Linked DNA regions of Homo sapiens: region 2 is reported to be linked to region 1. Evidence: microRNA targets listed by miRTarBase, many of them from high-throughput screens and not tested one by one. Region 1 holds a microRNA gene; the other region holds the end of a gene's coding sequence.

Evidence for each region. Region 1 holds the annotated microRNA hsa-miR-19b-3p (UGUGCAAAUCCAUGCAAAACUGA, at 3,016-3,038, shown strand). A microRNA usually pairs through its seed, bases 2 to 8, with sites in the 3' UTR of a target mRNA and lowers its output. Matches are read on the target gene's strand: a 7mer-m8 pairs with bases 2 to 8, a 7mer-A1 pairs with bases 2 to 7 and ends in A, and an 8mer does both.
Region 2: the mRNA of RHEBL1 is a reported target of hsa-miR-19b-3p. Seed matches in the 3' UTR shown: 8mer at 910-917.

Annotation. Positions count from the first base shown.
Region 1 is chr13:91,348,230-91,352,485 of GRCh38, forward strand. It overlaps MIR19B1 (microRNA 19b-1), which reads left to right and starts at 2,963; the gene lies at 2,963-3,049. MIR17HG (miR-17-92a-1 cluster host gene) reads left to right here. Exons shown (of 3, transcript NR_197388.1): 2 at 1,469-1,541; 3 at 1,927-4,256. MIR17 (microRNA 17) reads left to right here and starts at 2,376; the gene lies at 2,376-2,459. It overlaps MIR18A (microRNA 18a), which reads left to right and starts at 2,522; the gene lies at 2,522-2,592. It also overlaps MIR19A, MIR20A and MIR92A1. RefSeq lists a silencer at 1-946 and enhancers at 496-1,043, 1,044-1,591.
Region 2 is chr12:49,061,616-49,065,871 of GRCh38, reverse strand. RHEBL1 (RHEB like 1) reads left to right here. Exons shown (of 8, transcript NM_144593.3): 7 at 441-522; 8 at 680-1,196. The coding sequence ends at 769. Among named protein-coding and RNA genes, the nearest start is that of KMT2D, 3.0 kb to the right of the region's middle.

The sequences.
Region 1 (4,256 bases):
CGCGCAGACCCTGCCTGGGCCGACCCGAAGGCGGGTGGGCGGACGGCGAACACAATGGCCCCTCGGGGAGAGGACGTGCGAGGCCCGTGCCTTCTCCGGGGCCCGGGGCGCGCGCGGGGCGTGGGGTCTCTGGGTAGGAAAGTTTCTCCCGAGGGCGAGAGTTAAAGCGCCTCCAGAACAAAGCGGCGGCGGCGGCGGCACATGGGGCAGGCCGCGGGCCGGGAGGGGGCGCGCCCACGAGGTACCTGCGCGCCAGCGGGCGGCGTGGCGTGGGCGGGAGCCCGCGGTTCCCCAAACTTTGTACGCGCGAGGGTGGGCGGAGGGGCGCCGAGATCGGCGCGGCCTGGGCGCCACCCCCGCTCCGCGTGGGCTTTGTTAGCCCGCGTGGGCAGCCTCGGGGCGGGGCCCGCAACTTCCCCGCCGTGGCCCTCGGAGGAGGCCGCAGTCGGCCTCAGCCGCGGCGTGGAGCCGCCTGCGCCCGGCCGCTTGCTGGGAGTGTGGCGCGGGAGGGCCAGCCCGGCTCGGCGGGAGCGGCGTCCCCGCCGCCATGTTCCTGCGGGGCGGGCTGCACGGGGGTGAGGGCGGGGGACATGGCGGCGACTGCGCGCCGCCGCCGATTGTTCCCGGCTTAGGCCTCGGGCCGCGTGCGACGGGCACCGCGGCCGCGGAGCCCCCGCCCCTCTGGGCCGGGCTCGGGGGGGCTGGGGGACACAAAGGAGGGGCGGCGCGCCCGCGTCCCCGCCGCACTCGGGCCTCGGCGCCGCCGGTCGCCGCGCGGCTGCCGCCGGGAAACGGGTTGGGGGGGTTGCCGCGTCCGGCGGGGCCTGACTCTGACCCGCCGCCCCCTGGCGGCTACGCGGAGAATCGCAGGGCCGCGCTCCCCCTTGTGCGACATGTGCTGCCGGCCCGGGCTCCATGAGCGTGGCGGGCACTTTGCAGTCTCGGGTGTTCCTGCCCGGTCTTCTGTTCCTAAACTGCAGCAAAGGGAAAAGGAACTGAAAAAGGCAGGCTCGTCGTTGCAATATCACCAAAAGAGAAAATTAACGGCATGCCATCAGGACCACAGCAGTTGGAGAAACAACTCTTTATCCCGGCTTGCAGCCACGAGGTCTTGATTGGGGGAGGGGTGGTGAAGAATAGTCTGTGGGCTGCTTTTTTTTTTTCCTTTTACTGGAGCTGTACAGTGGAGTCGGTGATTGCTGCTGATCATAATCAAGTATTTTAGGAGCTTATTTAGACATGTATCTGATAGCTAAGGATTTTTCAACTTTATTCTCTTACGTATTTTTCAACTGTAAATTATTGGGCTTTTAAATCCTGCTAGTATTGCTCGACTCTTACTCTCACAAATGGATGGAATTAATTGCTGTTAGGAGGTTGGAAAATAGCAAATATAGATTTGGACGGTGGTAGTAATTTTGAGCAAATAATGTTTTATCTTTTTTTTCCTTATTTTTCCCTATTCCAGTCATACACGTGGACCTAACTGCACCAGTAGCTTTTCTGAGAATACTTGCTGAAAAGGAAGTTTTCTGGAATGGGTAAGTGTATTCTGATTTTCTTGAACTTTTCTTAAAAACAAATTTTTCTTGCTATTAAAGTTGAATAAATAGGATTGGTTTCTTAGAGAGTAAAAGTAGGTGTTTCTTTCTTTAGACAATGTACCTTTTCTGAAAAACTAACTCATTAAGTACGGATTTGCTAATTTTAAGGTAGTAAAATTACAGTGTAAATATTCCTGTACATTTTTGGAAACTGGCTTATGCAGTTTACGAAATATAATTTTAGACCCTCTTTTAAGTTGGGTGATAAAGTAGATATAACCTGAGATGATAGATTTAAACAGGATATTTACGTTCTGCTACAATTGACTGATAACACTTGAAGTGTAGTCTGAACAGTAATTTTGTTAATCATTTCAACAAGTATTTGCTAAGTGGAAGCCAGAAGAGGAGGAAAATGTTTTGCCACGTGGATGTGAAGATTTCCTCTAAAAGGTACACATGGACTAAATTGCCTTTAAATGTTCCAAAATTAGTTCTCATTTATTTGCAGTCTCATTTTGTTTTGTTTTTTTTCTCTATGTGTCAATCCATTTGGGAGAGGCCAGCCATTGGAAGAGCCACCACTTCCAGTGCTAGTTGGATGGTTGGTTATGATTGCCTTCTGTAAAGAATTCTTAAGGCATAAATACGTGTCTAAATGGACCTCATATCTTTGAGATAATTAAACTAATTTTTTCTTCCCCATTAGGGATTATGCTGAATTTGTATGGTTTATAGTTGTTAGAGTTTGAGGTGTTAATTCTAATTATCTATTTCAAATTTAGCAGGAAAAAAGAGAACATCACCTTGTAAAACTGAAGATTGTGACCAGTCAGAATAATGTCAAAGTGCTTACAGTGCAGGTAGTGATATGTGCATCTACTGCAGTGAAGGCACTTGTAGCATTATGGTGACAGCTGCCTCGGGAAGCCAAGTTGGGCTTTAAAGTGCAGGGCCTGCTGATGTTGAGTGCTTTTTGTTCTAAGGTGCATCTAGTGCAGATAGTGAAGTAGATTAGCATCTACTGCCCTAAGTGCTCCTTCTGGCATAAGAAGTTATGTATTCATCCAATAATTCAAGCCAAGCAAGTATATAGGTGTTTTAATAGTTTTTGTTTGCAGTCCTCTGTTAGTTTTGCATAGTTGCACTACAAGAAGAATGTAGTTGTGCAAATCTATGCAAAACTGATGGTGGCCTGCTATTTCCTTCAAATGAATGATTTTTACTAATTTTGTGTACTTTTATTGTGTCGATGTAGAATCTGCCTGGTCTATCTGATGTGACAGCTTCTGTAGCACTAAAGTGCTTATAGTGCAGGTAGTGTTTAGTTATCTACTGCATTATGAGCACTTAAAGTACTGCTAGCTGTAGAACTCCAGCTTCGGCCTGTCGCCCAATCAAACTGTCCTGTTACTGAACACTGTTCTATGGTTAGTTTTGCAGGTTTGCATCCAGCTGTGTGATATTCTGCTGTGCAAATCCATGCAAAACTGACTGTGGTAGTGAAAAGTCTGTAGAAAAGTAAGGGAAACTCAAACCCCTTTCTACACAGGTTGGGATCGGTTGCAATGCTGTGTTTCTGTATGGTATTGCACTTGTCCCGGCCTGTTGAGTTTGGTGGGGATTGTGACCAGAAGATTTTGAAAATTAAATATTACTGAAGATTTCGACTTCCACTGTTAAATGTACAAGATACATGAAATATTAAAGAAAATGTGTAACTTTTTGTGTAAATACATCTTGTCTTGTTTTCATTCAAAAACATTTCACTTTTGGGGTTGCGTGTCAGATTTGGCAGTATAAATTCTGGCTATATTTTTTGTTGTTAGATTTATTTGGCTGTTAAGTATTGCGATATGACTAAACATACTGTATACCTGATGATCATCTGTAAAGTTAGAGTATATCTTTTTGCTTTCTTTGGAGTTAGTGTTATTCCAGGATATTTTACTTAATCTAAAAGTTAATTTATGTTGCTCATATATTACTCAAGTATTTAAATTTAGAGAGAATGCCGCTCTGTTTAAAGCAATGTGTAAAGATGAGTTTTTTTAAGCATGGAATTTAGGGTTGGGGTACAATTTGTTTCTATTAAGCAAGTACCAGTTTACCAATACATGAGTAACTGAAGTGTAACTGTTAAATGCTTGTATACTAGTTTTTCTTTCTGATTGTCAGTGATTTATAAGCTATAAATGACCAAGGTCCTCAGACTGCTTTTAGCATCTGCAACTTAAAAAAATGGGAGTTAGAAAAAGAACAAATGCTAAATAGAGTAACAGTTAAATGTATGTGTACACTCTTCCCAAATGCCAAGAGTGCAGCGGTGGGGTGAGATTCAGATATTCATTTATTTCTAAGTCTGTAGTTAACATTTATGTTCCCTACTCCCTACGTAAGCCAGACTTTGGCAACAGTGATAGTTGATTCCAGGCTTATTTGACTTAAAGTCACTGAAGTGGAAACTAAGAAGTGGCAGTTAGTGTTTTACCCAGCATTTCTGCCTTCTCTCTTTTCTTCATGTGTTTTTGTCTCTAGCCTATGTGTATTTGTGTAGAATAATGTGGGATACCTGAATAATAGATTTAAAAGGACCAAGTGGTAAAATTGGGCCCAAGCTGAAGTACAGGCAAACTTGATGTTTGAAAGATAAGTTTTGAGAAATGTCATTGTATTTTGGAGTAAAAGAGGCTATCTTAGTAATAAGAAATA
Region 2 (4,256 bases), not on the chromosome of region 1:
CTCACTGCAACCTCTGCCTCCCGGGTTCAAGCGAGTCTCCTGCCTCAGCTTCCCAAGTAGCTGGGACTACAGGCGCGTGCCACCACGCCCAGCTAATTTTTTGTATTTTTAGTAGAGACGGGGTTTCACCATGTTAGCCAGGATGGTCTCGATCTCCTGACCTTGTGATCCACCCGCCTAGGCCTCCCAAAGTATCGGGATTACAGGCACAAGCAACCGCGTGTGGCCCATTTTTTTTTTAATAGAGATGGTGTTTCCCTGTGTTGTCCAGGCTGGTCTTGAACTCCTGAGCTCAAGTGATCCACCACCTCGGCCTCCCAAAGTGCTGCATTACAGGCATGAGCCACTGTGCCTGGCCAGGAAGTCTTGATTCTGAAGATTTTTCAGAGCACTTACTGACATTTCTATCCTCCATCTTTATGTCCCAAATTTGCTTCCAGAGAGGTACAGGCAGTTGAAGGAAAGAAGCTGGCAGAGTCCTGGGGTGCGACATTTATGGAGTCATCTGCTCGAGAGAATCAGGTGCTGGGCCTGAAGACTAGAAGGGTGGTGATGGTAGCTGTGTTTTCCTTATTGTACTGCTTGGTGGTGGGAATGTTGCGGGAATGGGGCTTTCACCCCAGAGCTGGGTGGTATTGGCACTGAACTGACTTTTGCCCTGAATCCTCTCCTCTTATAGCTGACTCAAGGCATCTTCACCAAAGTCATCCAGGAGATTGCCCGTGTGGAGAATTCCTATGGGCAAGAGCGTCGCTGCCATCTCATGTGAGCCCTTGGGTGTGGGGTAACTGCCTTGCTTCTGCCCCCGGCACTTGCCATGTTCCAGTGGGGGGCAGATCCTCAGGACTTCACGGGTATGGTTGCCAGCTGTGTTCCTGGCCCCTGGACACACAGTGTGGCATCCTCATGTTTGCACACTTTCCCCAGGCTCCAGTGGCCTGGATGTCAATGTTTACAAAGGGGCAAGGACCTCTCATGGACACTGGCCTCTAGCCCTCTGTTTTTGTTTGATGAATTCTGTTATAACCTATGGGGTCAGGATATGAGTCCTGGGCATTATTTATCCAGGACCCATCCTCTTGGGTGGGTTTTGGGTGTTGGCTGGGTAAGGGGAGCCGGGGACTTCTGAAATAGAGCTGGCTCCCTGGGGTGACAATGTATATATGCAAATAAATTGAGAAATCTTTTGTTGTTGACTTCTTTTTCGTGTGTGTGTGTGAGACGGAGTTTCACTCTGTTGCCCAGGCTGGAGTGGTGCAGTGCTGCAATCTTGGCTCGCTGCAACCTCCGCCTCCCAGGTTCAAGCAGTTCTCCTGCCTCAGTCTTCTGCAGGCACCCGCCACCATGCCTAGCTAACTTTTTTATTTTTAGTAGAGATGAGGTTTCACCTAGGCCAGGATGGTCTCGAACTCCTGACCTTAAGTGATCCACCCACCTCAGCCTCCCAAAGTGCTGGGATTACAGGCGTGAGCCACTGCCCCCGGCCTTATTTTATTGTTGACTTCTATGTATCTAGTGAGAGCTCAGAGCCAAGATCTCTTTTTCCAAGGAGTGATGGCTGTGGTCTTTGGTGGGATATCTTTCCTCCTACCTTGTTCCTATTCCTTATTCCTCACTTATTAAGGACCATTATCCTAAGATTTACTACTTGCCTTTCCCACCTTTCTATTCTGCTGGGTTCCTCATATACTAAGTCCAGTTGGCTGCCACTCCCATCCAAGTTTTGTAGCCTTTCAAGATCCCCTTAATTACAGAAACACCACCCTCTAGTGGCCAACTGCAACATGCTGACCTAGCTGTCTTCCTGGGGCCTCGGCATTTGCTTGGATTCAAAGATGATGGGGTTTCAGGAGAAGAAAGGAAGCCCCTCATTCCTAATGATGTAAGAATTGAGAAGGAGTGTAGAGGCAGAGACTAAAGTGTTGTGAAGACTTTGACTTCCCAAGAGTGTTGAGTAAAGTAAGAAATAATGCCTCCGGTGCATATCAGTCCCCTGGCCCTCCATGTCCCCAGTGTCTTCCATTAAAATGGCCGTTCTTTGCTGTTTTCATACCTTTAATCTTTTTGTACTTTTTACACCTTTGGTGGTGTGCTACTTTTTTTTAGGTGTCAAAGGCTATTGGTTCTGCTTTTATGGGCCTACCGCCTCAATGAATTGATATTTCAGCTAGGAAAGTTTGGTCCTGTTTGCCTCTGCTTTTCTTGATCCCCACCCTCCCACCAGCCTGATTGCCTAACTAGTCTAATACCTCCTCCAAGGATGTGTAAGGGTTATTTGAATGGTAGATCTTCACAGAGAAGGTACAGACCTCTTCTGACAACTGGGGGAGCCCGAGGTACCCTATCAATGTACTTACTTGGGAAGGATTGACAAAACCTAGATGTGATTTTTAGCTGTGACTTTGTCAGTGCCTGGCTCCAGGCTTACAGTTGGGGATATGGCTTGTCATGCTGATTTTCAAAAGTCCTGACAGCTGCTTTTGCTTTTCTGATCCAGAATCTAAAAAGAAATAAGGGCTGCTAGAAGAAACATACTCCAAACAACAATCTCACTGGCTTAGGAGGTTCTTCTGGTAGGTCACCACTGTCTCTCCTTATGTTAAAATTAAGTCTTTTTGCACATCTGACCTGGGATACTCATTACATGAGCCTACCTTCCTGCTGCCATTTTCATGAGGTCTGGGGTAGACTTAGAAACATCTAAAGTTTTCTAGTTTATCAATAATCTCAAGGCCTGGGGACAGTAGTGATAGTGGTTAATAGCTCCTCCACTTAGCTGTGTGGCCTTGGGCGGTCACTTAACTTCTCAGAGCCACCATTTCTCATTTATGAAGAGTGGCTAAGTGTGCTTCATAGAGTTGAGATGAAAATTAAACGAGGTAATATATGCAAAGCTTACTACAGTTCTTCACACATAATAAGTCCTTAAGAAATAGTGGGGTGGTGGCTGGGTGCAGTGGCTCACGCCTGTAATCCCAGCACTTTGGGAGACCAAAGCGGGTGGATCACCTGAGGTCAGGAGTTTGAGACCAGCCTGGCCAACGTGGTGAAACCCCATCTCTACTAAAAATAAATTAGCTGGGTGTGATGGTGGGCGCCTGTAATCCCAATTACTAGGGAGGCTGAGGCAGGATAATCGCTTGAACCTGGGAGGCGGAGGTTGCAGTGAGCCGAGATCGCGCCATTTCACTCCACCCTGGGCGACAAGAGCGAAACTCCATCTCAAAAAAAAAAAAAAAAAAACCAAAATAGTAGGTGGCTATCTGTGTTATTACTGGAGGTCTTTCTGGTGAGGGTCTACCTCTCCCTGCCTCTGGGTGCAAACCTGGGAGGGGCCTTCCATTTTCCAACTTGTTTCTTGGTTAACTTATTCTATTGTAATTAAAACAAGTGTGGGATCACTGCTGGAGTTTTTTTTGCTCAAATATGTGTGAATGGTCAGTGCAGAAAACATGATGCCAATGTGTGGCTGGAAGAGGACAAACCTAGTCCTGATCCCTCCTATTACTCTTACCAGTAGGGATTAAGGTCTCCTGCACTGTCTAATATAAAAGCATCACCTCACATGTGGCTATTTAATTTCATTAAAATAAAAAGTTCCTTACTTGTACCACCTGCATTTCAAAGTGCTCGAGAGCTGCATGTGGTTGATGGCTACCATATTAGATAGTGTAGATTTAGTCCATTTCCATCACTGTAGAAAAGTTCTGTTGGGACCGGGCGCGGTGGCGCATGCCTGTAATCCCAGTACTTTGGGAGACCAGGGCGAGCGGATCACGAGGTCAGGAGTTCGAGACCAGGCTGGCCAACATAGTGAAACCCTGTCTCTACTAAAAATACAAAAAAGTAGCCGGGTCTGGTGGTGTGCGCCTGTAATCCCGGCTACTAGGGAGGCTGAGGCAGGAGAATCGCGTGAACCAGGGAGGCGGAGGTTGCAGTGAGCCGAGATCGCACCACTGAACTCCAACCCGGACGACAGTGCGAGACTCTGTCTCAAAAAATAAAAAAAGTTCTCTTGGACAGCATCGTAAACCCTTTCCTCACAAAGCTGGCATTGGATCGAATCTGCCTGCCTCTTTCTCCACATCTTCTTTTAAAAAAACGTAGTATAATTATTTGTAATCCTAGGAAAAACGTGGCCTTTGGTTTGAATAATGGCTCAACTTCTCACTAGATGTAGTTCTGTGGGCAATTTTACCTATTGTAGCCTTAATCTTCATCTGTAATATGGAGATAATTCCATGTAACTCATAATG